Regions from separate parts of the Homo sapiens genome. Here region 1 is linked to region 2. Evidence: fine-mapped expression QTL. A gene starts in region 2. The other region holds a variant in brackets. All regions are shown on one strand. Distances are from middle to middle. Region 1 has its middle 56 kb from the start of LINC01717. Region 2 holds the start of LINC02769 (long intergenic non-protein coding RNA 2769).

The links. PIP is the estimated chance that this variant, and not a neighbour inherited with it, causes the effect.
Region 1: its variant is fine-mapped to the expression of LINC02769 in caudate (GTEx, PIP 0.97).

Annotation. Positions count from the first base shown.
Region 1 is chr1:208,778,029-208,790,951 of GRCh38, reverse strand. No RefSeq gene overlaps it. Among named protein-coding and RNA genes, the nearest start is that of LINC01717, 56 kb to the right of the region's middle. The variant A/G (reference allele first, on the strand shown) is at 5,774.
Region 2 is chr1:208,631,750-208,644,672 of GRCh38, reverse strand. It overlaps LINC02769 (long intergenic non-protein coding RNA 2769), which reads left to right and starts at 6,425. Exons shown (of 3, transcript NR_187286.1): 1 at 6,425-8,688. RefSeq lists an enhancer at 12,205-12,374.

The sequences.
Region 1 (12,923 bases), 150 kb before region 2:
AGAATCCTGAAGCAGTAGTGTACCATGGAACACATTTAGGGAAATGCTGAATAATTCCATAAACATATTAGATCAGTTGGCAGTTTGCAAAGAAAAAACAAAATAGCTACCTATGCAGTATATAAAACTAAATTATAAATGAATTTTTAAAAGTAAAAAATGAAAATAGAAAATACTGGTGAATATAAAAATCTCAGAAGGGGGAATTTTTTTCAAACATTCTAGTAAAAAAGAACCATAACAGAATAACTGATTCAACTTACCTAACATTAACATTTTATATAAATAACAACAACAACAACAACAAAATGCATAATTAGAGGGGGAAAAAAAGCAAGTACCAAGCTAGGAACAAGATATATTTTTAAATACATGTGACAATGGTTTCATATATGACAACTCTCACAAATGAACCAAAATAAAGAGGTGATTCTTCCTTTTCTGGAACCCAGGTAAAATAAAAATAATAATAAAAACAAAAGGTGAATATCCCAGGAGCAAAATGAGAGAAATACATGATTTGACAATGCACAAAAAGAAATATAACTTATAACTTATAAGAGATAATATCTGATTTCACTGGTAGTCAAAATTGTAATAAAAATAATGATATAATTTTTTTACTTTACTTTTAGAGATTATACTTATTTATTGTTTTTACTTTAGTAAAAAAGATCACTATCCTATATTGTTAGTTATGGGAATATAAACTGGTAGATTATAACTTCTGGAGAGAAACTTGACAATATGTTTAAATGTCTTAAAAATGTACATAATCTCTGACTCTGCAATTTCACCTCTAGAAATTTATTCAAAGGAGATGATCAAGGATGCTTGAAAAGATTTATATTCAAGCATGACCACTTCATCATTGCTTATAATACCAAAAATGGGAATATTTGTAATGTTCTATAATAAATATGACAAATTCATGAGCCAGAATACTACGCAGTCATTAACAATTATGTTGTACAAGAATATTTAATGATCTGGGGAGGTCATAATGATATAGTAAGTAAAACAGCTGTTGTAAAACCAGAAATACAGTATCATCCCATTTTATTAGAAAATATGCATAGTGTGGCCGGGCCTGGTGGCTCATGCCTGTAATCTTAGCACTTTGGGGCCAAGGCAGACAGATCTCTTGAGCTCAGGAGATTGAGGCCAGCCTCGGCAACATGGTGAAACCCTGTCTCTACAAAAAAATACAAAAAATTAGCCAGGTGTGGTGGCACATGCCTGTAGTCCCAGCTACCCAGGAGGCTGAGGTGGGAGGATCACCTGAGCCCAGGAGGTTGAGGCTGCAGTGAGCCATGATGGTGCCACTGTATTCCAGCCTGGGCAACACGGTGCATACCCTCTCTCTCAAAAAAAAAAAAAAAGGAAATTTACATAGTAAAAAAGCCTATACATTAAAATATAAATAGTGATTATATCTGCGTAGGTGGAATTATGTACTACTTTTTTCTTCTTTGTGTTTTACAGTATTTTTCAGTTTTTTGCAATTAAAGTTTATTGCTTTTTGCAATCAAGAAAAATAAAAGATAAATTGCAAAAGGGATATATCAGTAAAGATTGCATTCTACAAAGAACAAATCTGTGTGCATACTGTATTAAAATCTCATAATTAGTGAAACATTAGCCTACTAAGGTTTTAAATGGAATGGGTCATGGCCTTGCTGTATTGTGTAGAGCCCAAAACAATATAGACATTTAAATCAATGTAATTTTTAGTGCTTAACAATCACCTTTAGATTTGCATGATCTGAATGAGTGGCCCTTTGGGTTATATACGGACTGTGACAGTTACCCAGCTTCAGGTTACAAGCATGCAAGACCATAAATCAAACCATTTCCTGATGTAAACAGGTCTCACAAATTTAGACTTCTCAAATACTCCATGAAGTCCAAATTTAACAGCCGTTTCAGCTAGAACAACCATCAGCAACCCCCCGAAATCTGCATCTAAACTATCCACATTATCTGAACATCTCTACAACCATCAGGTCTGTTTACTCGGAATCTAGGGATAAAGGGTTAGTGGAAAAGAAAAGAAAATTGTCCCACTTGGCTATCTCACATAATATAACAAAGAGGGCAAGACCCTCGATTCTGCAGATAGCCTGAAAAAGATTGTCTTAGATCCGAAGTGGAAACACTCTGTTTATCTGGTTCAGATTCCTATTCTCTTATTATGCTCAGTGAGGCCATGTCATTTAAAGCTATTTCTTTCTACCACTGTCTCTTTTAAAGCAACATCTGCAGAATTAAATTCCATGCACTGACAGGGATGCTTTCAAAAGCTCAGAATCAATTCTTCAATCATTCCACTTTCTTAGCTGTGATTAAAAACATGTGTCCCCTAATTAAGCTAATGAGAAACTGTTAATTGGCACAAAGCCCCCTCCTGTGCACACTTGTTAATGTCACCCTCACTTTGACAGGAGAAAGGATCAAAATCAAGGGCAGAGAGTTCTTAAGTGACTTCAATATTGGACTTAAGGAGAGGAGCTTTATTTGGGATGCTAAGGCTGTCAGTTGTACGACTTGCATGGAGGAATAAGGAATGTCATTTTGCTGCTAATTTTATAAGGAAGCAGAAGGAAGGGATGCAAATAGGACAACAGTTGATATGTTGATTTCTTTTTTCTTCCTCACAGAAATGATGGCATTCAATTCTCTTATTTGCTTTCTATGCAAGAATGAATCTACATGATAAGCCACAACAGAGTAGGAAAGCATCCCTCTCTGAAGGAACACTAGGAAGGAGCCCTCCCTGTAGACCCATCTAGTTTCCTCTTTGTCTCTAATGAGCAATATCATTATTTCATCTTCCCCTGCACCCAAGGCTCCTTGTGGATAGGAGAGGTATGCTTTGCCAGAGGAAGCACATGCTTTGATAAGATTATTTTTTATATTTTTCTAAAATTTCCATTTTGGAAAAACTAGAATTCTTTACTTGCCTAGTTTGTCCCTAGCTTTTCTTATGTAACTTTGCATACCAGCAATGATTCATTCCTAAAGTCTCAGAATCTTCTGAAGATGAAAAAATGTCCTGCAACGGGGAGGCTGGACCAGAGCTTATGGAGGACTGACAAGAGAGCTGTTATCAAGACAGCAGGCCACAAATGAGGACTCAGAGACCATGAACTTGTCTTGGTTCAGAGCAGCTCATTCCAGGAAATGGATCTCTCTGCCTTAAGTAGCCCTGGGTCGATTCTTGGGGAAAGAGACAAGCCTGGAGGCCAGGGTAACTCAGGTTATTAACCAAAGCTCTGAAAACCACAGGTGAGCGAGATCTGTTGCTAATATCTGAAAGTCCATTGCTTTATGACCCATCGGTGAGGTATAGGGGTGAGGAGGTTCTGCTCATCTGGAGCCCTCTTTTTCAGTCACCTAACTGAACCAAGTGTTTATCAGACCTGTCGATCATCTGAGAGAGGAAAGAACACTTTGCAGTTTGAAGGGTGTGAGCCACTGCTGGAACCTCTGAGAATGCCTGGCAGCAAGCTGTCACCCTGATGGGTGTGTGGAGCTGGCAGCTCCTCAGGCAGCTGTTTCTATGAGTGATTTGATGAGAAAGGAGGAGGCCAGTAAGAAGAAAGCTGTTTTAGAACCAGGGGTTGGAGTTAAGGGACATGGGCAATCTAGTAGTGGTGTGTAGTGTTTTTCCTCCACCCAGTCCCATGGACTATGCTCGAGTTCAGAGAGATGATTTAAAAGGGGCTCTGAGAATCATGGGAAGGACAAGAAGCACTCAGCACCTTCAGCTAAGAAAGAATGGCAGTAAATGGGAGGCAGACTCCTGACTGCTGCAGACCTTAACCTCCCTCCGGGGAGACAGGCTCTGGCACAGATGCTGGTGTTCCACCATGTGTGCCCGCACCTCACAGAGAGGCAGCCTTCCTAGTTGATTTCTGCGCTGAGGACCTTGACAACGGTCACTGGTGCAGGAAAGGTGGAGTGCTGAGGCGACTGTGTGGTGGCTAGAGCTGTTAGGAAGCCTGTGTCTGCCCGATAAACCTGGAGAGGACCTTAGGAAAGGAGATGCCACATCGGTGCCTACAAGCTGGGGGTCCTGGGGAGATTTGAGTCACTTCCTCCTGTTAGGTGTGGCAGTGAGTGGGGAGGGTTATAGGAAGTCTTGGTGTGGGGCAAGAAAGAAGGAGGGGGTAGGAATTAGAGAGACCACTTTGGGATTGTAGACTAAAAGTCTGAAAGGCCTTTAAGATCCCATCAAATTGTGCTACATGCACCTGAGGTTGTATTAGTTCAACCTCCCCATATTTTTCCTTTCTTATAATCTCACCTGGGGAACTATAAGCACAAAATTCAATCAGAAGAACCCTTCATTAGCTTCTATCTGATGCGTAAAAGGGAAAGATAAGAATATACCAGTACGGGCTCAGTATCAACTAAGAGTTCACAGGGAGGGGAAAAGAAGACAAATTGAGTTTTCAGGAGAGAACAGGCTGTACTTGTCACACTCTCTTCCCACCTCCTGCCCCCAGGAATCCGCTAGTTAAGAAAGAGTTCTATCCTATGGTCAGAAGGCTGGGATGAATCAGCCAGGTGCGGTGGCTCATGCCTGTAATCCCGGCACTTTGGGAAGCCAATAAGGTGGATCACCTGAGGTCAGGAGTTAGAGACCAGCCCAGCCAACATGGCAAAACCCTGTCTCTACTAAAAATACAAAAAAAAAAAAAAAAGCTGGGTGTGGTGGCAGGTGCCTGTAATCCCAGCTACTCAGGAGGCTAAGGCAGGAGTTTCGCTTGAACCTGAGGGGTAGAAGTTGCGGTGAGCTGAGATCACACCACTGCACTTCAGCCTGGGCGACCGAGCAAGACTGTCTCAAAAAAAAAAAAAAGAAGGTAGGGATGAATGTTTTATTACCTAGTTTTGTAAATCAGTGAATGTGTTTATTTGAGCTAAAAACCAAACCATGACAGAGTGGGACTAGGACCAGCTAAGTCATGTTTTGATGTTTTGAGACTGATCTGAAGTAATCCCCCCCTTTTTTTTCACCCCATTGCTTCCTGCAGGGACAGGGACAAGATGAGATGATGTATATGAGAGTATTTTGTAAACTCTGAAGTACTCAGTGAATAGGCTGAAATCTGCTGAGAGTAGCAGAATAGTCCTTTTTTAAAGTAAGAAGGATAAGAAATGATTTGCATAGTTTACAAATTCTGTTAGCTCCAGTCTCCAAATGCATTCATTCTAACTCATAACTCATATCCACTACAATCAGGGCTGGTGCCCATGGCTTTGGTGTCCGTGAGTATGTCTGGCCTGGCAGGGAGGCAGAGCTAAGAATAAGAAACAAGTTGGTTATGCTCCAAATATAATAAATTTGTCTACCTTTAAAAAATAAAAAAGGATATTGAGATAGATTCTGGCTGAGTTAGATTTACAGACACTTACTCTTTTGCCTGTTTTTAAAGTAATGAAAATTCTATCTCTCCCATTGAATCTGTCCTGAACTTAACCAAGAGTTGTCTATTCCTGTCTGAAGACTCTAAGTTGCTTTAACAGGTCCTGAACCCCAACTCTCCAAAACAGAGGGATGCAGAGGCCTCTAAAACCCAGGGTCTAGGTTTCTGCCTTCCCTCCCTTCGAAACCTGCTTGCTGTTTGCTATGGGATTTCTTTTACCCAGTTGTCACCTCCAGACCATTTACAGCTGGAGCTTCTCTTCGGTTGCCATACCTAACCCTGGACACTGTTTTTGAGATAACACTTAGTTTTAAACCCTGCCCTGAAGGGTCAGTTCC[A/G]TATCACTCCTGTGTCTACTGTGGACTTCTGAAAGTCAGGCTGGATCAGAGATTGAGGTCTTGTGTTGACATGGAAAGAGAGTGGACAATTCCACACTTTGATTCCAATTCTAAGAATAGCAGAGAGGAGCCAGTGTATTGTCCTAATCCAGGGCAGGTTCAGGGTGTGGACGTCCCTACTGCACCCTCCTTGCTAGAACTATGACTATCATTGGGCTTAAATGGAAGAATGAGGATGGGATTCATTTTAACCAGGCCACCTGAGCATTAAGGGAAGGAAGCCAGGGCAGGGTAATTAATACAAAGCCCTTGACTGCTGAGCTCTTCCACTTCAGCCACTGGGAATTTGTGCCATGAAATCTCCTTCTGAGGAACTTCTGTGAAGTTGCTACAGATATCCTGTAGCAACTAATTCCACCCTGATTGCACTTGGCGTGGCCTACTCTAAGGACCAATATGATGACAAGAACAGAGCAGTAAAGATAAGAGCTGAGAAGGCAGAGTGGCAGTGCTGTTTCTTTATGTTTGGATGCCTTTTGTTCCAGAATGAGGCCACCTGGTTAAGGGGGAGGAGAGGGGGGTTCTTCCTAACCACTGAGAGCTGCCCTCTCACTAAGTAAGCATCAATGACTGTGCTGTGGTTGATAGTTTTATATATATATATATATATATATATATATATATATTCTCCTTTCAAACTTAGAGACCAGTTTTTCAATGTCTAGGCCTGCGGTTGACTGGCATTCCTGACTTTGCTCTCCAAATCTATCCTGCTCTGACCATTACACACCCACATCCCTGGAGGAGCCGTGTCCTGTGGCCCACTGGGAAGTTGCGCCCCGTACAGTAGATGCACCTGACAGCAATAATTTAAGCATAGCCTATATAGCAGATACACCTGAATTCGTGTTCCAAGCTAGGGAATTTGGGCGTGGCCAACCTGGAGATTCATTCCTTGTCAATGAGGAACATCTGAGCCCCATCCCTACGTACACACCCCAGCCCATCCTGTGGAACATGGGCTGTATAGAGGATTGAAGCCCTGAGTTTTGGGTTGGATGAAGATTGCCAGGTGGAGGTTGTTAAGGGCAGGATATTAAGTGAAATGCTATATAAACTGCATGCTCTTTGCAAATGGTTGGGGTTTTCCTGCCTAGCCCACCACCACTGGGCTTTGTTGACTGTAGGTAAGGCGGTAAGGCAGACATTTTGTCCAGCTGCTGCCACTGATCTGTCTCTGTATGTAAGGCAAATCTCTTGTCCAACTCACCACCACTGGAATCTCTCCTGTCTATGTAATCCATTAATAAAACCTCATGTCTTGCTTGCTGTTCCTGGTTCTTTTCTTTGGCCTCTTGACCCTAACACCTTCCCTATTGAGGTTAATAGGGGTTTGGCACAACAGCTCCAATGCTGACACAGCCTTTATCCCCAATTTTAAAGAATTTTGGCCTCAGAATGAGCATAATATTCATTCAACAAATATTTATTGAACACCTATTATGTACCAGGCAGTGTTTTAGACACTGAGGATGCAGGCATGAAAGAAACAAAACTCCTGCCCTGATGGAACATACAGGTTGGCAGATATAGAATGAGTAAAATATATAGTGTATGGGACCATGATAAGTGCTATAGAGAAACATAAAGTAGGGAATGTGGATAGTGAAGGCAGTGGGGGGTCATTGCAAGTTTAAACAGGATAATCAAGAAAACAAGGAGGCCGGGTGTGGTGGCGTGGAGTGGAGGACCTCTCCCACTACCTTAGGCTGTCTTATGCAGAACAAGTGGGGACAAAGGTGGGAGCAAGGAGACCAGGTAGAAGTTATTGTAGTAATATAGGTGACAGATGAGGGCAGTTTGGACCATATACAAGGTGATAACAGAGGAGATGCCAAAAGTGGATTGAATGTATCTTGAAAGTAGAACCAACAGGATTTGCAGGTGGATTCAATGTGGGATGTCAGAGAGAAAAAAATCTTTCCTTGCTCTCCCAAGGGGTCTTAAGGCCTCCGGGTGGCCAGTCGGTTCAGAACATGTCCTGGGCTTGTAGATGAGGCTCCCTTTCACCCTTCAGCCCTCACTGTACACACAGAGTAAAAGAGGACTCTTGTGACCCCAAGTAAAGCTCAGGGATTAGATGATAAATCACTAGATATAAAGAAGTTAAATGAGGAGTCATAAAGGATTATCTTCCTCCCAAGTCTTGAAAAAGTATGCCTTCCTTCACATGGCGTCAGCTGGATTTTCAGAAGGCATCCTCGTGCCCACCTTATGTATGACTCCATATAACAGGAGCCTTTAGTGTAACCATTTATTGCTCTTCCCTCCCCTACCCATTCCTTTCTTTCGGATATCCTGGGAAATGTAAGTTTTTTGCTTTTTGTTTTTGTTTTCAACGTAGGAGCATTTATGGATCTTCCTTGCACAGGGTAAAAAAGAGTTCGTTTTATTAAAGTACTCATAAAAGAAGCTAAGTTAATAAAAGAGAGAGTTGGGGGAGACAAGGGAGCCACAGGCTTTCAGAGTAGCATGTTTTAAGTGTTTTTGCAGCTCAGTTCCCCCCCGCTCTCTTCCCCAACCAGCTATTACTGCAGTATTTTTGCTCACATCAGCGACTTTCCACCTCATCTTTCTTTCTCACAGGTAGTTTTGAAACCTAATTTCAACCTGTTTGGATGAGATGCCAGCACTTGACTGGAGCCCGGCCTCTGCCAGCAATTTGGTGCTCTGTCCTGGCCAGTTCAGCTTTGAACTGCTGAGTGATAGATAACTGTGGCTTGGGTGAGGCAAGTGAAACAGGTGTTTCCTCAAGCTGTCTGTCACTCCTGCACACATTCTTTGCTGGGGGAGATTCCATGTTGTCAGCCCCATCCGAGAGAGACAGGGAAGTTGCCTTTAAGCATCCAGGTAAAGTGACACCTCTTGGGAGTTACATGATGCATTGAAATTAGCTGCCGTCCCTTCTATTGTAAAATGTGAAGATGCTGGTCTCACTGCCTAGAAGATAGTGCAGTTGGAAGCAAGCTCCTCTTCAGAAGCTTGACTTTCCATAATGTTCCATCATGGCCAGCACCAGCATCCTTTTTTTCCTCCATCCCTCCCCCTTTCACTTCTATTCAGTGGGGTGGAATATGTAAGGACTTCAAAAGGATAACCACCACCACTCCACTATAATGCATCCCCACAATTGAATGGGGACAGGCAGGGCAGGAGCAGCTAAGAGACATGGCCTTTTTCTCTGCCTAGCAAAGATTTCACGAAGCATTTAGGAGGGGGAGCGGGAAGGGGAGGCTGATCAGATTTCTGAAGTATTTGAGCAGCTGTAAGCTTATGCATATGAATAGAGGCTGCATGTATAAAGCCACCAACCGCTGAGCCAAAGGCCATTTGACTACACCAAAGGGAAGAAGGAAACTAGAGGTGGGGGGAGGACATTGAGGAAAATAATAAAGGTTGTATTAAAATGGTGAATAATGGAATTCAGAGGTTATCACCAGAGTTGAAATGGAATATGAGGTTCTCACTTTCATTCTGTCTTAAGCCTGGTGCACTGCTGATGTGGTTTATTAAACAGCTGTCACAATCCAGGCCCCTGAGGCAGATGCATTCAATGGGGTGTTAAGAAGAAATTCCAGTAGAGGCAGATAGAGCAACTGGTTTCACCAAAGGCTCCCCAACCTCAAGTTCTTTCCCATCCTGGTGCTCCCCCTATTAGAGAGAAATTGAAAATGAAAGAAGAAAAAAAAAGCAAAGAAATAGGAAAATAAGCAAAAGATCAGAAAAAGTGAATAACAGGGGAATAATATTATTGGAAGAAATGCTAGTTCTTTTCACAATAGGTTTAGAAGTTTCTGATAAGCACTTCACATAGGCCACGGTGAGCCATGCACGTGTTGTGAAGTATACAGGATGTCATGCTTGCCCTTTTGAGACTTAGAATCCAGAGTGACATTTGAGTTAAAGGATGAATGGGTATCACCAGGATAAATCATGGAAGAAGGCAGAGAGAGTAGAGATTGTGTGTGTTATGATCTGAATGTTTGTGGACCTCTGAGCATCAGGTTGAAACAATCTCCAATGCAGTAGTTATTAAGAGGTGAGCCTTTGGGAGATGATTGGGTCATGAGGACTCTTCCCTTGTGAATGGGATTTAGGCCTTTATAAAAGAGGCTTCACACAGCATTCAGCCCCTCTGCAGGATTCCTCTGCAAGGCACCATCCTGGAAGCAGAGAACAACCCTCCCCAGATAACTGAACCTGCTGGTGCCTTGCTCTTGGACATCCTAGCCTCCAGGACAGTGAGAAATAGATTTCCATGGTTTATACATTACCCAGTCTCAGGTATTTTGTTATAGTGACACAAACAGACTAAAACAGTGGGAGGCTGGAATATGCCACCTGAAAACATGAAGGATTATCCAGCTGAAGGCAATTTGGAAGAGGCAGATGCAGAAAAGCTCTCTACCTTCCCTCTATTTGCCTAAAAAGCAGGACCTAGACTGACAGAGACAAAAGGTTCCCTGCTCCTCCTCCTACCAGGGAGAGAACAAAGGTTAAGCACTGGAGACCACTTTGGGTGCTTCTTGGTCTAGAGATGGTACTAGAGGAATCTACATTAATAAGCTTTACTAACAGCCTTTGTCTGCCATTTATTTGTCTTCCCACCAATTGCTGTCCCCAGAAACTCAGTCCTTTTCCTTTGTCTTGTCACTTCTCTAAAAGTTTACCTCTCTCTGTTGAAGATACTACGTAAGCTGGTATTCAAAGCCACCTCTTAGAGAACTACTTATTCCCTGGGTGTCTGCCATGTATATATGAAATATACATGTTAATAAACTTATTTTTCCTCGCTTTTCTCTTGTTCATCTGTCTTTTGTAACAGGAGTTTGTTCCAACAAAGAACTTACGAAGGATGAAAGAAAAATTGTTTTTCTTCCCCTACAAGAGGCATAAATATCTTTTCCATTCATGAGGCTTGAGCACAAGATATTAAGTGATGCATAGCAGGAGGGGACCTGGAAAGACAGGTTTGGGAAGGATGGAGAAGGTCCTTGAATGCTATCCATTGACATTTGGATGTGATCCTAAAGGAATGGTGAACTCTTGAAGGATGTTAAGGAAGAGACAATCAAATTCTCATTTCAGAAGGACCTCTAGCTGCTGTGGGGTAGACTAATTGAAAGGAGACAGTGGCTGGGCATGGTGGCTCATGCCTGTAATTCCAGCACTTTAGGAGGCTGAGGAGGGTGAATCACTTGAAGTCAGGAGTTTGAGACCAGCCTGGCCAACATGGTGAAACCCTTATTCTACTAAAAATACAAAAAAAAAAAAAAAAAAAAAAAAAAGCTGGGTGTGGTGGCGGTTGCCTGTAATCCCAGCTACTAGGGAGGCTGAGGCAACAGAATCTCTTGAATCCAGGGGGCAGAGGGTGCAGTGAGCTGAGATCATGCCACTGCACTCTAGCCTGGGTGACAGAGTGAAACTCCATCTCAAAAAAAAAAAAAAAAAAAAGACAGGGCCGGAAACAGGGAAACCATCAAGAGACTCAACAGTCTAGGTGAAGGATGGTACTGGACCTCTCTGAAGGAGAAATGCAGTCCATTCCTCCCCAGCTCAGCTGGTGCCCTCTGGTCTGTAGTCAGAGCAGTGGCTGAAGAAACTGTGTGGCCAGCAGACACTGTGTCCTGGGGAAGGCCGTTGGAGGAGCAGTTCACTGGGAGTAAAAATAACACTCTGGAAGCAAATGCCCCTGCAGTTGTAACTGGCTCCATCCAAAACCTTAGGAGTCCCACCATCAGAGCAACTTTTTAGAAGTACCCAACAAGAGTAGCATGCATATTGGAAGAATTTGATTTCCACTCTCAAACTACGTGATAATTATCTCATTTTAAAATTCCTTAAAATGGTACAGCTTTTACTTCTATTCACAAGTAGATTTAACAATTTCATATGATGTTATGCTATTTGATTGTTAATTACATCATTATTTTATTATCCAGAAATGAGAAATACTTAGTAGCTTTAACATTTTTGAATTCCAGAAGGAAAAGAAACTAGATTGTTAACTTTTTTTAATAATTAAAAAAAAAAAAACTTAAGTCAGCCCATTCTTTGCCTTATAGGCTTTTTCTCAGCAAGTGCAGAATGATAAACTAATTGTGTAATTAGGAATAAATGGCTTATAAGAGCAATACCTTATTTTCTAAAAAGGTATAAGTGTTATGTATTCCTTTTTTAAATGTGCTCCCATTAGAGCTAAAAAAGAAGTGAAAAATATAATTTTGAAATAGTTGCTCTAAATATATATTTTGTGACCAAGATTTTCCCATTGACATGGTCCTTGCATTTCCCCAAACAAAATTGAATGTGTGTCAAAAGCTGCAGAAATGGGACAAACCATCTCCCTCAAGTCTGGGTTTGGTTATCCTGGCCCGTTCAGTGGTTGTCATTTATCTTCTTTCTCTGAGCAGATCATGGGCAGACTGGAGAAAACAGCTGATGACCAAAGATGAATGATTTTTTTCTCTTTATGATTGCATCATCCTATAAACACAAGATTTTTATTGTTTAGTTCTTGTTTTAATGGCAGTTTAACCGCAATAGCGCATGAATACCTTTTGTACATTTGCTTAGTGAATTTGTATTCCCGTTCTGGTTGACTCATTTGGTCGAAACATTAAGTTTACATGCCAAGGGGAGGAGAAAAGAGGGATGGGGCGCCAAGCTTAAGGAGAGGTAAAAAAGGCAATTATAATTTATGGGGTAAGAGTGCCAGAATTTCATTTTTTATTCTAAAGCAAGGACTGGTTCATCAGAGGAGCCTCATCAGATGGGTAAGCTTTTTTATGCTTTTCTAAGGACATCAACTTACATATTTGATCCTAATAAGGTTCTGGTGTGTAAGAGGGGCAATGACTATGCCCACTTGCCAGAAGGGATTATTGAAAGCACTTTTCAGTCGTCCTTCCAGTTTTTTCGATCTAAATAAAAAGAGCATTGCCTCTGACGGATCCATCATTCCTAAGGGTATTGGAATAAGAAAATGACAGAACAGATGCGAATGCACTTAGAAAGTAAAAGCAATATATAAACGCAAGAGATTCTTAGTTTTATTACAGAGATTTATCTAGTCCTGCCACATTATGAC
Region 2 (12,923 bases):
GAATATCTACCCTGTATGTAAAGGACTCTTCCTTTACAGTCAGAAACCAAAGGGGCTATTTGGCCCATTTTTTAATAGATTCCTTGAGGGCAGTGATTGTACCTTGTTGACTTTAGTGTTTCATTGCCTTGCATACAGCCTGGCAAATAGTAAGTGACAATTTAGAGTAATAAAAAATAGTTTAACCAGTATTATCATAATTTATATGTCATAATAAATAGTAGAAAAAATAAAGAACTCTTCTTCTGTTATGCAAACCAAGGGTAAATCCTATTACTGGTTTAAACAGAAGCCAAATGAAGGAGATTGCTGCTATGGTTCTGGGAAATCTGGCTGGGGCAGGAGACCCTGGGCGATTCTGCTGCATCTGTGACTCGGAGAGAGTGGCCAGGAACAAACATCTGACTGCGAGTACAGGAAAGAGCCCTGCATTAGACTTCTGGCATGTGCTGTCCAGTCAGTTTCAATGATCTATGCAAACGTGGGCATTCTGTCTCCCCAGCTGAATGTAATACTTTCTAGGGCTGCTACTCAAGGGCTACCCTCAATGGGACTGGGGCTGGGGCTGGCCTGGTTGGGCTCTAGCCAAAAGCAGAAGTCAGAGACTGGCTTTGGAACAGTAAAATCTAAACCAAAGCATTTCTACCCAAGGGCAAGAAAATGATGAGGGCCAGAGATGTGAGTCAAGACAAAGCCTGCAGGAAATTACTTGGATCCCCAAAAAGGGTGTGAAGATGGCAATGCGGGCCTGTTAGCAGAGACAAGTATTCTGAATTAATGGAGATAGATGAGCAAGAATACACTCTGAGATAGAAAAGGAGATAGGCCCTGTGTTCCACTCATCTCTGTGTCCCTATCATCTTGGACACTGCCTGTCTCATAGCAAGTGCTCAGCAAGAGTTGAGTAAATGGACAGTCATTCCCTTCACCATCTCAGCGTGTGCTAAACTATATCACGTATGGGTGACTGAGAGAATGGAAGCTCTGAATTCTATTTTGGGATGCTTCATTTCCTCCTCGGAGAACCCTTTTTGAAATATGCTAACCAGAACCAAGATTTCCCTTTATTTTTACTCTCTAATCAAAGGAATTTCCCAGGGAGGTGGAATCCCTCAATACCAGGAATCCAGTGCTTGTCAGGGATCCAGTCCAGGGGACAGTGGAGGGTCTGGGATTCCCACCTCACTGGCTGCCAAGAGGTCTGGCTGTGCTCCCAGCAATTCCTGAGCCCCTCCTATCCTCCCCCATCTCTCCTCAGAGCTGACTGGACCCCTCCACACAGAAATCTGCTGCCTGTGAAATTGTAAAGTGAAGGGAAAGGAAGTGCAAAAAATAACTTCCCTAGACAATCAGAGCAGATTATTTTAATGAGGGCTTGGAAATGGGAAACAAATGACACCAAATTAGCCTCACTCCCATTCATCAACTATGTTGGTGCAAGCGCTAAGCCTTCGCCTGAGTCAGCAGTGAAGCTGAGGTGGCTGCCTCTAGTTTCAGGGAGCTCCTCGCAGGAGCCCGACACATCTTTCACAGAGCTCAGTAGTCTCCATTCAATTGTTTCAAGGCTGCTGGGGCTCAGCGCTGCTAACCCTTGTCTGCTTTAAATTTCCTCTGGATAGAAGTACGGAGCGCTGAAGGAAAAGAGGGTCCCAGAGCCCACCTGTGGCTCAGGGAAAGGTAAATGACAGAACCAAGCTACTCCTATTTCCCAGAGCCCACCTGTGGCTCAGGGAAAGGTAAATGACAGAATCAAGCTACTCACATTTCCCAGACTCTGTCCCTAGACCAGGGAACTTAATTGTGGGTGAACCACGTTACAACATAGAACATAAGCAGTTTGTCTGTATTTTCCTCTGAGGCACACACCTCTCCTTCATACCGACCAGTTTTGTCTCCTGGCCAGCCCTGGTTATTGTCAATGAGAGGTCATCGGCTAGGCTGAGGTGGACTGTTGTGCCACAATTCACAATGTAGACTTATAGTAATAATAATGTTTCCACGTGCAGCTGGAGAGGAGAAGCTGAGCTCCTCTGAAACTGGGCCTCCTTGGGTCAGAGTGGTGAACAGAAAAAGACTACAATAATTACATTAAGCAAAATGAAATTGTTTCCCCACTGGAAGGAAGGAAAGTCATTAACTCAGAGGGTCCAGTTATCAGGGAAAATGATATCACATCTGCAGTGTGTTTTGGATTGCAATTTAACAGGAGAAATTGGAAGAGAATTTGATGTGGGGTGAAAGGTGTTGGATTGACAGCTCAGGGAATTGGAATATGCTGTTCTCAGTCCACCTCTTGTTCTCTATCTCTTGGTCTCTGGGTCTCGTCTTACCTACTCTGACATTCATTTCTCCCTCTTCACAAGAGACAGTTTGGGACAGATACTGATGCAAATTCAATCCTTTTCTATTTCTAAAGCCTTGGAGGTTCTTGGTTTTCAAATTCATACCAATAATCTAGTTTGGCTTTTAGCTTGCCGGGAAGTCCCAGGGTTTCCTGAACTACTGGGTGCCTGTTTCTGCTACTTTTAGGGTTATGTCAGAATAGTTTGGCTAGAAGAGGGGTGAGGTTAGCACAGGAAACAAGGAAGTGTTCATGACAGAGGAAAATAACTTTCGGTTAATCATTCAGTCAGAAATTTTTTGCTGAGCACTTACCATGTGCAGAACACTGGGTTTCATGTCATGGAGGACATAAATATGACCTAAACATCCTCTCAGGAAACTTAAAACCTAGATGAGCAGATAGAATGCACACATAGAGCAATCCACAAATGCCAGGCAGACACTCGTCACAATCACTGAAGAAACTGTCCTCTTTTTGCTATCTTTTCACATCCTCAGCCCAATCCTAGTCCTTCTATATCCATCCAGGGAATGAGTCATCAGTAAGATTAATCCATTTTCACCATATGTTTAGAGTTATAAGAACTTACTGTGGAGAGGTCTACTAATCTAAAGATCTACCAATCACACCCCTTTAGAATAACTGTTATCCAGTTTGACAGATAAATTGGAACTGAGTTTATTGACTTAGTACCACATTCTCAGTCTTTCGTGGCCCAGGGAGTTTTGTTACATGGCTCCTGAGAAGGGCACTTTTTTTTCTAGCTCTACCACACTGCTTTAGCTATGTAATAGGCTAACCTGCTCTAACCTTAAATACATGAGATTAAATAAGGCAGAAACTTAGTGGGAGGCACAGGGTGGACAGGCAGCTCTGCTCCACAGAGTCACACGGGGACCAAGGCTTGTTGCTCCAGTGTTTCCATCGTCAACATGAGGCTTCTATGTTAGGGTCAAGGTGGCTACTCCAGATGTCACCACACTCAGTAGTGGAACAGAAAGAAGGAAAGGCAGAGTAGAGGGAAACTTGTTACATTGTAAAGATTCAGGTGATGCATGCTTCACTTCCACTCACATATATTGTCCAAAACTTAGGAACATGGCATATCTAACTGCAAAGCAGACTGGAAAATATGGGGTATCACAAAAATTTGTGTTCTCAAGTAAAGGTTTGAGATTCTATTACTAAAAAGAAGAAAGAAAGAAGGAATACTGGGAAATAATTAGCTCTGTCTTTCATTCCTTTCTCTACCATACTTCCACTAACCAAATCTTCTATCTCTATTACCCTAAGGAATCAATCATATTCTTTTTTCTAATTTTCCATTCTCTTTAGTACTTAACCAAGTAGAATGTCCCCTGACTCCTAATGTGTTTGTCTTTGAACCTTAAAACTGTACGGGAGCCCCCCAAAACCCTCTCTAAGCTTTCATCCTTTAATCAAGTACTTTTTCTTTTCATTTTCTGAGTTTACACTGGGATTTATGGAGTATCCTGTCATGCACTGACACGAAAAGAAACAAAGAAATCTGGTTTCTGCCTTCAAGGGTCTTCTGTCTCTCACTGTCTTAGTTCAGGCTGCTATAACAGAGTGCCATAGACTGGGTGGCTTAAATAACAAACTTTTTTTTCTCATAGTTCTGGAGGTTGGAAGTTCAACACTAGGGTTCCAGTATGGTTGGGTTCTTGTTGAAGTCCTTTTTTCTGGTTTTTACAGATGGCTGTCTTCTTGTATCCTTACATCGTGGAGGGGGGTGCAGCGGGGAGGGAGAGAGAAAGAGAAGAGGAAGCTCTCTAGTGTTTCTTCTTAAAAGGCACTGATATCATTCAGGAGAGCTCAATCCTCACATCCTAATCACCTGGCAGTGGCCCCACCTCCTAACGCCATCACATTGAGGTGTGAGATTTTAACACACTTTTTTTGCGGAGACACATTCAGTCCATAGCACGTGAATACACTTGCTGCCTACTAACTCCTTTGTTCTTACCCAGCCCCTACCTCAGTCTTTACTTAGCTTTTCTTGTTGAATCATTCATTTCCCACAAAACAATCTGCAACTGATCTGGTGTTGACTTTGCACCCTGTTGTGTTTCTACCCAAAGAATCCTTTTCCCATCACACACAATCACCTGATTTACACATTTGCCCAATTATTCATTTATCAAAAATCAAGACCCTGGGCCTACCCTGTGCCAACACTGCTCTGGACACCGAGTCCATGGTGGCAAACTGCATGGCCTCTGTTGTCACAGAGCTTACTACATTAGTGGAGACAGGTGGCCAACAAACAAAGGTATACTTATAATTACAAATTACACAAAGTGCTTTAAAAAAAAAAAGCAAGCTGCCATATGAGAGAATAACAAAGAAGATGAAATTCAGTTTGGAGCCAGTCTAGGACATGACACCAATTCTAGAACTTAAAACAGGAGCAGGGCTATCCAGGCAAAGGAGGGAGAGGAGTCTTTTTGGCAGAGCCCCACCTATGGGAAGCCCAGAGATAGAAAAGAAGTTGGAGTGTTTTAGGGATTGAAAGAAAGGCAATGTGACAGAGGCACCAAGAGAATAGCAATAAGAGATGAAGATAGGGACTGCAAGGGGAGGGGAGGTGATGGCAGAATATCCAAAGCTTTCTGAAAAGGAAACCTACAGAAGGGTTTTAACATGGGAGGGACATGTTCTGACATATGTTTTAAAGTTCATTTTGCTGTGGGAAGAAAGGATTAGAGGCTGATAAGAATGGAAGCAGAAGGAGAATAATTAGAAAACTATTGTTACGTTCCCAAGGAATAAAGGTAGTTTGGACCAGGGTGAAGATGTGTGATGGAGAAGATCATAAAGTCTCTCTAGAGCTGGGCTCAGGTAAAATGCACCCTTTGCCTGTTTTTGTGAAGTTTTATTGCTACACGACCACTCTTGTTCATGTCCATATTGTCTATGGCCACTTTCTCTCTGGAATGGGAGAGATAAGTACTTACCACAGGGTAAGTATTTTAAACTTTTCTTTGATATACAATGGAAATCTCTCTTTTGATCAGCTTAAGGCCAAGTAAGGAGGACTTAAGAAGGACCACGGAAAAATTGAATGAATGGGGAATAAAGCAAAGCTGAATTGCTACTGGAGTTAAAAGGAGTTACTGATGGTGGAAAGAAGTCAGGCCCGCTGGTGTTTTACCATAACAAATATCTGAAGTAATCTCCATACCTTCAGATCTCCTTGTGGCTGCAATAGCTCTTCATATGGAACTAGCCATCTACCAAATTATTTCCTTTCTCAACAAACATCACTCACAGCCCTATTATGACTGGAAGTCTTTTTAATAAAACTGTCTGTGAAGATTGCAAAATAAACCTATGGAGCAGCGTCCTCACTACTTCCATCTGTTTTTCCACAAATTTCTCTCCCTTTTCCACAGAGCAGGTTTGTATTTCCAAGAAGGTGTATCTTCAGGAGTTCTAATAAAGAACAGCTGAATGCAGCAATCTTTGCCATCAATACAGCCAACCTTCAAGGAATCACTTTTCACAAATGATCTGACGTGGAGGTACTCCTTTCTTAGAATGTATCTTTCTAGTCAGGGCATTAGGTATTTTTTAATTCAAGTTAGAAGTCAGGACTCATCTTACACTTTCTACTTGAGTCTTTCCTGCAGGTTGTATCCTCTATATTAAGAGTATGCGTAGTTTATCTGTCTTTTAGGCAAATAGCCATCTTATTCCCACCCAAGGTGAGAGTCCATTTTAGTTCAGGAAAAAATAAATTTAAATTTATCGAGAGGGAGATTGTTGTGAGAAGAGAGGCAGAATTCCTTAGCTAGAGGAGAGATTCACAATCCTATGAATTGAGTAGACACAGAAGGCCTGGTCCTGGCTAAACGGAATGCTGGGAGCTCATGCCAGGGAGGGGTGGTGTGCAGAGGGACTGGGTTGGAATCCAGGTGGCTGAATTCATGGGAGCGTGGCAAAATCAGGTCCTGTTCCACTCGGGCTCAATTTCTAAAACCTACATGACTCCTAGGGGGTCTTCTCAAAGTACGGATTCTGATTCAACAGATCTGGGATGGGTCCTGAGCTTCTGCACTTTTCACAAGCTCCCAGATGATGTCCATGTTGCTAGTCCACAGACCACACTTTGAATAGCAAGGGAATAAGGAATCTAACTCTAGAGTTCAAATGTATGTGGGGTGAAGGTTTTGGGTACAATGTATGCTATGTATATTCATTTGGAGTCTAAATCATTCACTGGTGCTCATGGGGGATGACGATGTATGGGATTTCTAGAGTCCAGACTCAGTAAAGGAGCTACAAAGACTTGGGAAAAAGGTCAAATTCCCTAGTGGACATGCTGGGATCAGCTGAGAGAAACTTGATAGAGGACATTGGCTCCACCTACCCAGGAATAAGAGTAGGTTAGCCAGCCCTGAGTCAGGGGAAGAGGAGCACCACAGAACTAAGCCTCATACAGTGGAGGGGCTGAGAGCATGGACTCAGCTGCCAGGGAAACTGGACAGGAATCTTGGCTCCATAATTCTGAGCCTCTGTTTTTTCTTCTGTAAAAACTTACATTATGGGCTTGTTGAAAGCACTAAATAAGATAGTCCATGTGTTCTGGGTTCTGGTCCCTGAAAAACAGACTCTGAGATGATGATCTTTATGGAAGTGGTTTATTACACAGTGCCCCCTGGCAAAATCCATAGGGGAGAAGGGAAGTGGGACATAGAAAGGGAAGGAAGCCAAGCAAGGGTGCAATATGAAGCAAAGTTCTGTGAGTGTAACTTTAGCTCAGTCATGCAAGGAAACACTGGAGAGTAAATCACAAAACTAGGGTTATCCCAAACTAGAAGCAGGGTAGCTGGATTATTTATACCCTCACACGCATCAGTCATTAAGGGATACTCCCTGAGGGATGTAAATTCCTAAGCTCTTGCAGCTGTCTGCATACACAAGAAAAGCTGAAGTTCTGGATCTTGAGGGAAGTCCTCGGACAGAGTTGGGGACTGACTGTCCTGAAAAGAAGCACATCTGAAACTGTATGCACGACTGGTAACTGGCAAAGGATTGAGGGCATGTGAGAGGTGCTCTGAGAGTATCTGCTAAATTATGGAAAGAGTTTTAGCATGATCTGTGCCAATCCTAACCCACTGGTAAAATCTCCCTTTATTATATACAGTGTATACATAAACATTATCTATGAAGACAAAAAAGGACAAGAAGAGCAGGTATCTATCTCATGGCACACTGGACAGTGGGACTAGAAGAAGCAGATTATTCTGGGGGTCGACTTTGCAAATGCAACACATTATTAGGGAAACTGGGATCCAGTTACTGAGTGGCCTAAATGACCAGAAATCCCAAAGATCCACCTATTACTGTTGACAGAGAAGAAAAGTCATGAAAGTTCCTTTCAGTCCTGTGACTGCTGGGCACTGATTCTGCATTCAAGATGTGTTTCTAGATGTGAGTGGCCATACTTTATTGCTTGTGGCTTATGGAATGGATAACCTCCGTGGGCTCCATTTCCTAATCTTTAAGGTAAGAGGTCCTCTAGTTCTAAAATTTTACGAATTGACAAACCGCTAACTACAAGATGAACACTCCATAAATACTAAGCCACATTCTCCACAGTCACACATCCCCAAAGTGAGGTAAATTTCTTTTTCCATAAAAAGGTGCCAGAGATAGTGTATCTTTGTTTCCAGCATCTGTCCTGTGCAGGTGTACACGGTTCTCACCCAACTGGCTTCTAGTAATCCTTGTAGTTGCCTCTTGTATCCATGTGTCATATGCCTCCTGTGACTGATTAGTTAATCTGTCTTTCTCTGTCTCACATACTCTATAAATACACAAAAAGACATATATATGTACACATATGTACATGTATATAATTTTTTGGGCATAAAAAGCAGCCGAAGTATCCTCTTACTCTGATTTTAGAGATTATAACTTTTAGGCTGATTGGGGTGGGATGGGAGGCAAAAAAAATTGCTCAGGCAGGATTCCGATGCTACTAATTACTCACCAAAATATGGATAAGACCATTTTTGTAAGCAATGAATTGGCTCATTTAAAATTCCTTTGTTTTCATTTTTAGAAGAAAGAAAGAGGAAGAAGGAAGAAAGTCAAAAGGATGAAACAACAAAAGGAGCTCCCCACAGAAAGACAGACTCTTTCGCCAGCACATTTAAGAATCTAAATGAGGCCAAGTGCCAAGCAGATAAAGGGACTCTACTTGCTGCACAGTAAATAAAACGGAGGCAGGAGGACACCTGCATCAAACAATACTTTCTGAGGGGATGACAACAAGATTTCAGAGAATTCAGATCCTGACTTTCCTGCCTCACCAGGTAACCTGGCACAGAAGGATATCTAAGAGGGTAAAATAGACTGGAATCAGACCTAGAACAAACTATCCCCTCCCAACACAGTGGGGATGGAGTAGGCATTGTGGAGACGGACCCTGCTGCAGCCAGGTGGATGGCTCCTTGTGGCCAGAGGGCTGACATCAGGAAGCAGGTGGGAGTCCAGGCCATCCGATGGTGCCAGTGAAGGTAGCAAGAAGGCTGTGACGGCTTGTTCCAGACCATAACAGGGGAAGACTCAGGGCAGGCACTAGAAGAGACCCAGACAGACAAGCTGCTCATCAGCAGGGAAGGCAGATGGGGAGGGTAAGAGTAGGAGGGCCTTCATCACATTGATGGAGCAATGTGACATCAGGTGGGCCTGGGAACCAGCACCTCGGTCCTGGATGGCAGTAGAGAGTAGAGAGGAACTGATTGCAGGCAGGTTGTTGAGTAGGAAACTGTAGCAATTTCTTAGGACTGCCATAACGAAGTACCACAAACTGGGTCACTTACAATTACAGAAATGTATCCTCTCACTGTTCTGGAGATTAGAGGTCTGAAATCAAGATACCAGCAAAGTTGGTTCCTTCTGGGTACTCCAAGGGAGAATCTGCTCCATGCTTCTCTGCTGGCTGCTGGTGGTTGCTGACAGTCATTGGTGTCCCTGGGCTTGCAGGTGTATCACCCTAACCTCTGCCTCTGTCATCATGTGATGTTCTCTCTAAGAGCCTCTGCCTCTGTTTTCTCTTCTTATAAAGACATCAGTTGTGGGAACAGGGCCCACCCAAATGCAGTATGACCTTATCTTAGATTAATAAATTACATCTCCAAAGCCCCTGTATTAGTCAGGGTTCTCTAGAGAAATGGAGCCAATAGGAGATTGCATGCACACACACACACACAGGCACACACACACAATTTATTATAAGGAACTGGCTCACACAATTATGAAGGCTGAGAGGTCCCAAGATCTGCAGTTGGCAAGCTAGGAACCCGGGGGTGCTATGTGCAGTTCAGTCTGAGTCTGAAGGCCCGAAATCCAAGAAAGCCGGTGCTATAAGTTTCAGTCCAAAAGCCAGCAGCCTTGAAACCCAAAAAGAGCAGATGTTTCAGTTTGAGTCCAAATGCCAGGAAAGATCAATGTCCCAGCTTCCAGCCAGGCAGGAGGAGTTCCCTCTTACTTGCAGTAGGGTTTGCCTTTTTGTTCTATCCAGGCCTTCAACTGATTAGATTAAGGTCACCTAAATTACAGAGGGCAATCTGCTTTATTTATAAATATATATATGAGGTGATTTATCATAAGAATTAGTTCATGTGATTTTGGAGGCTGAGAAGCCCCACAGTCTGTCATCTGTGAGCTAGAGATCCAGGAAAGCCAGTGATATAATTCTTTTCAAGTTTAACGGCCTGAGAACCAGAGAAGATGATGGTGTAAGTCCCATTCTGGGTCTGAAGGCCCAAGAACCAGAAGCACAGATGTCTGAGGGCAGGAGAAGACAGACATTTCAGCTCTTAAAGATAGAGCAAATTTATCCTTCCTCTGCCTTTGTGTTCTATCTGGGCCCTCAATGTATTAGATGCTGCCCAACTGCATTAGTGAGAGCGCTCTTTTTCACTCAGTCTACCAATTGAAATACTAATCTCTTCCATAAACACACTCCAAACACACCCTGAAATAATGTTTGACCAAATATCTGGTCTATCCCTTAACCCAGTAAAGTTAACACATAAAATTCATCATCACTGTCTCTATTTCCAAATAAGGTCTGAGGTTCTGGGTGAACATTAACATGAAGGAGGCATACTATGTAGCCTGGTATAGTTCCCAAAAGAGATTGCAGCTCCATGGAACAATATAAAAACGTCTGAATAGAGCTACGGCATGAGTTTGTGCTCTGGTCCTGGGAGGAGCCTGAACAAGTCAAATTATAATCATATGATACATTACGGAAAAATTATGGTTCTAGAGCTGATGATGAAAGCCAAGGAGTAGTGACATTAGTCTCATGTTTCAAGAAGTAACCCCGATGGGCAATTCATGTGTTTAGCCTTAACCACATTCCAGCTCCCACTGAAGAGTCCTATTTAAATTAGCATACCTCCTCTTCCTCCTCAAGCTTCTGGTCCAACTGAAGAAAGGTATTTCCCCTTACCACCCCTCCTATCCTCACAAGAATCACTTCTGTACTGAGCTATCTCTTCTAATCTGAGAATGCCAGATTGTAGAAGAATGTGAGAACCACTGTTTTAATGTAATCTCACCTATTGTATCTGAAAAGACAGGGGTTGGGCATTTGGGTACCACTGGAAATGCTGATATATGCTTTCATACCAGACTTGGTTGGAGTTTTGTATTATTTTATAAATTATAGGACACGCCTGAGATTCTGAGAAAGTTTTTACCTTAGGAAAGACATAAATAAAGACTTTGAATCTGTCAAGAAGAGGAATGCAAAAACTTACCTATTCAATAGCTCTGACAAGGCTAGTGGTGTCAGCACCAACCAATAAAGTTGGGAGCAATCACGGAGAAGGACTGACTTATTAGTCTAGGGGTGTGGATGTGGAGATGAAAAGTTGACATGATGTTCTGGGGAGAAGCAGATATAGGCACCAGGAGCAAAGACCTCTGAGAAACCAAACTCACATTGTTCAGACAAATTCAGAAACTCAGATGGCTAAGTTCATTTGTCAAGTGAACACCAATAAATCCAGAGGTCATAGGAGGGACTCAAGAATCTCTGAGAGGCAGGCCACCTTCCATGCAGGGACAGGCAGATCACTGGCCAGAAGACTACCTAGGCTTCATCCAGGGAGTCTTCTTTTTGTCTACTAGATGTGGACTTTCTGGTTAATTCATATACATCCTGAGCACTTACTACTATGCAAAAATCACAATTAAATGATTATTCATTTGTGATTTAATTTTTCTCTAGCCAGCTGGGTGGGCTAATGTTAAAGAAAACAAAATAGAATGAGGAGACAAGAAAAAACAGGGCTTATTTTTAAGATGGCATGTGTAACCTAATTTTAAAAATAAAAATATATAGCCAGGCATGGTGGCTCATGCCTGTAATCCCAGCACTTTGGGAGGCCAAGGCAGGCAGATCGCCTGAGGTCAGGAATTCGAGACCAGCCTGACCAACATGGTGAAACCCCGTCTTTACTGAAAATACAAAATTAGCCTTGTGTGGTGGCTCATGCCTGTAATCCCAGCCACCCGGGAGGCTGAGGCGGGAGAGTTGCTTGAACCTGGGAGGCAGAGGTTGCAATGAGCCAAGATCACATCATTGCACTCCAGCCTGAGCAACAAGAGCAAAACTCCATCTCAAAATATAAATAAATGAAAATAAAATATATATGTATGTATACGTATGTATACGTACATATACAATTGGCTGGATGCAGTGGTGCACACCTGTAATCCCAGCATTTGGGGAGGCTCAGGCAGGCAGATCACTTGAGACCAGGAGTTCGAGACCAGCCTAGCCAACATGGCAAAAAACCCATCTCTACTAAAAATGCAGAAATTAGCCGGGGATGGTGGCGCACACCTGTAGTCCCAGAATTGCTTGAACCTGGGAGGCAGAGGTTGCAGTGAGATGAGATCACATCACTGCACTCCAGCCTGGGTGACAGAGTGAGACTCTGTCTCAAGAAAAAAAAGAAATATATATCAATTCACTCCCTTCCATTTGGACCTCTTTCATTTTCTCATCAGCTCTAGTCTGCCTTTCTTTGAATGTTTTCAGTCCAGTTAGGAGTAGTTACAATGTCAATGTCATGATAATACCTATTAGTTTATAAAACACATATTTATGTTACTTGATCCTTTCAATGGCCCTGTGATGTAAGAATTACTGTTAACCCACTTTACGGAGGAGAAATCAAGTTGTAGCAAGAAGGAAGTCCAGCCAGGACTGGTATCTGAGACTACTGGATTGCAAATTCAATGCTATTTCCACACACCACACACCACCGCAGTGGAGGAGAAGAACCTCGAAAAAGAACTTCTGTCAGCTTTAGAATTGGTGGTGATTATTTTCCACTCTGCCTCAAGGCAGAGCTCAGATAAACCCCTGAGGGCAAAGTTGTTAGGACCAGAAGGGCTCGAACTCAGACTTGCCTCTGCTTCTGAAGGGACCAGGGCAACCGAACTCAGGAAGAGCTCTGTTGCCTTCATCACTTAATTAACTGAGCGTCACACTCCATTTGCTGTTGTCTCCAAGACACTGGCA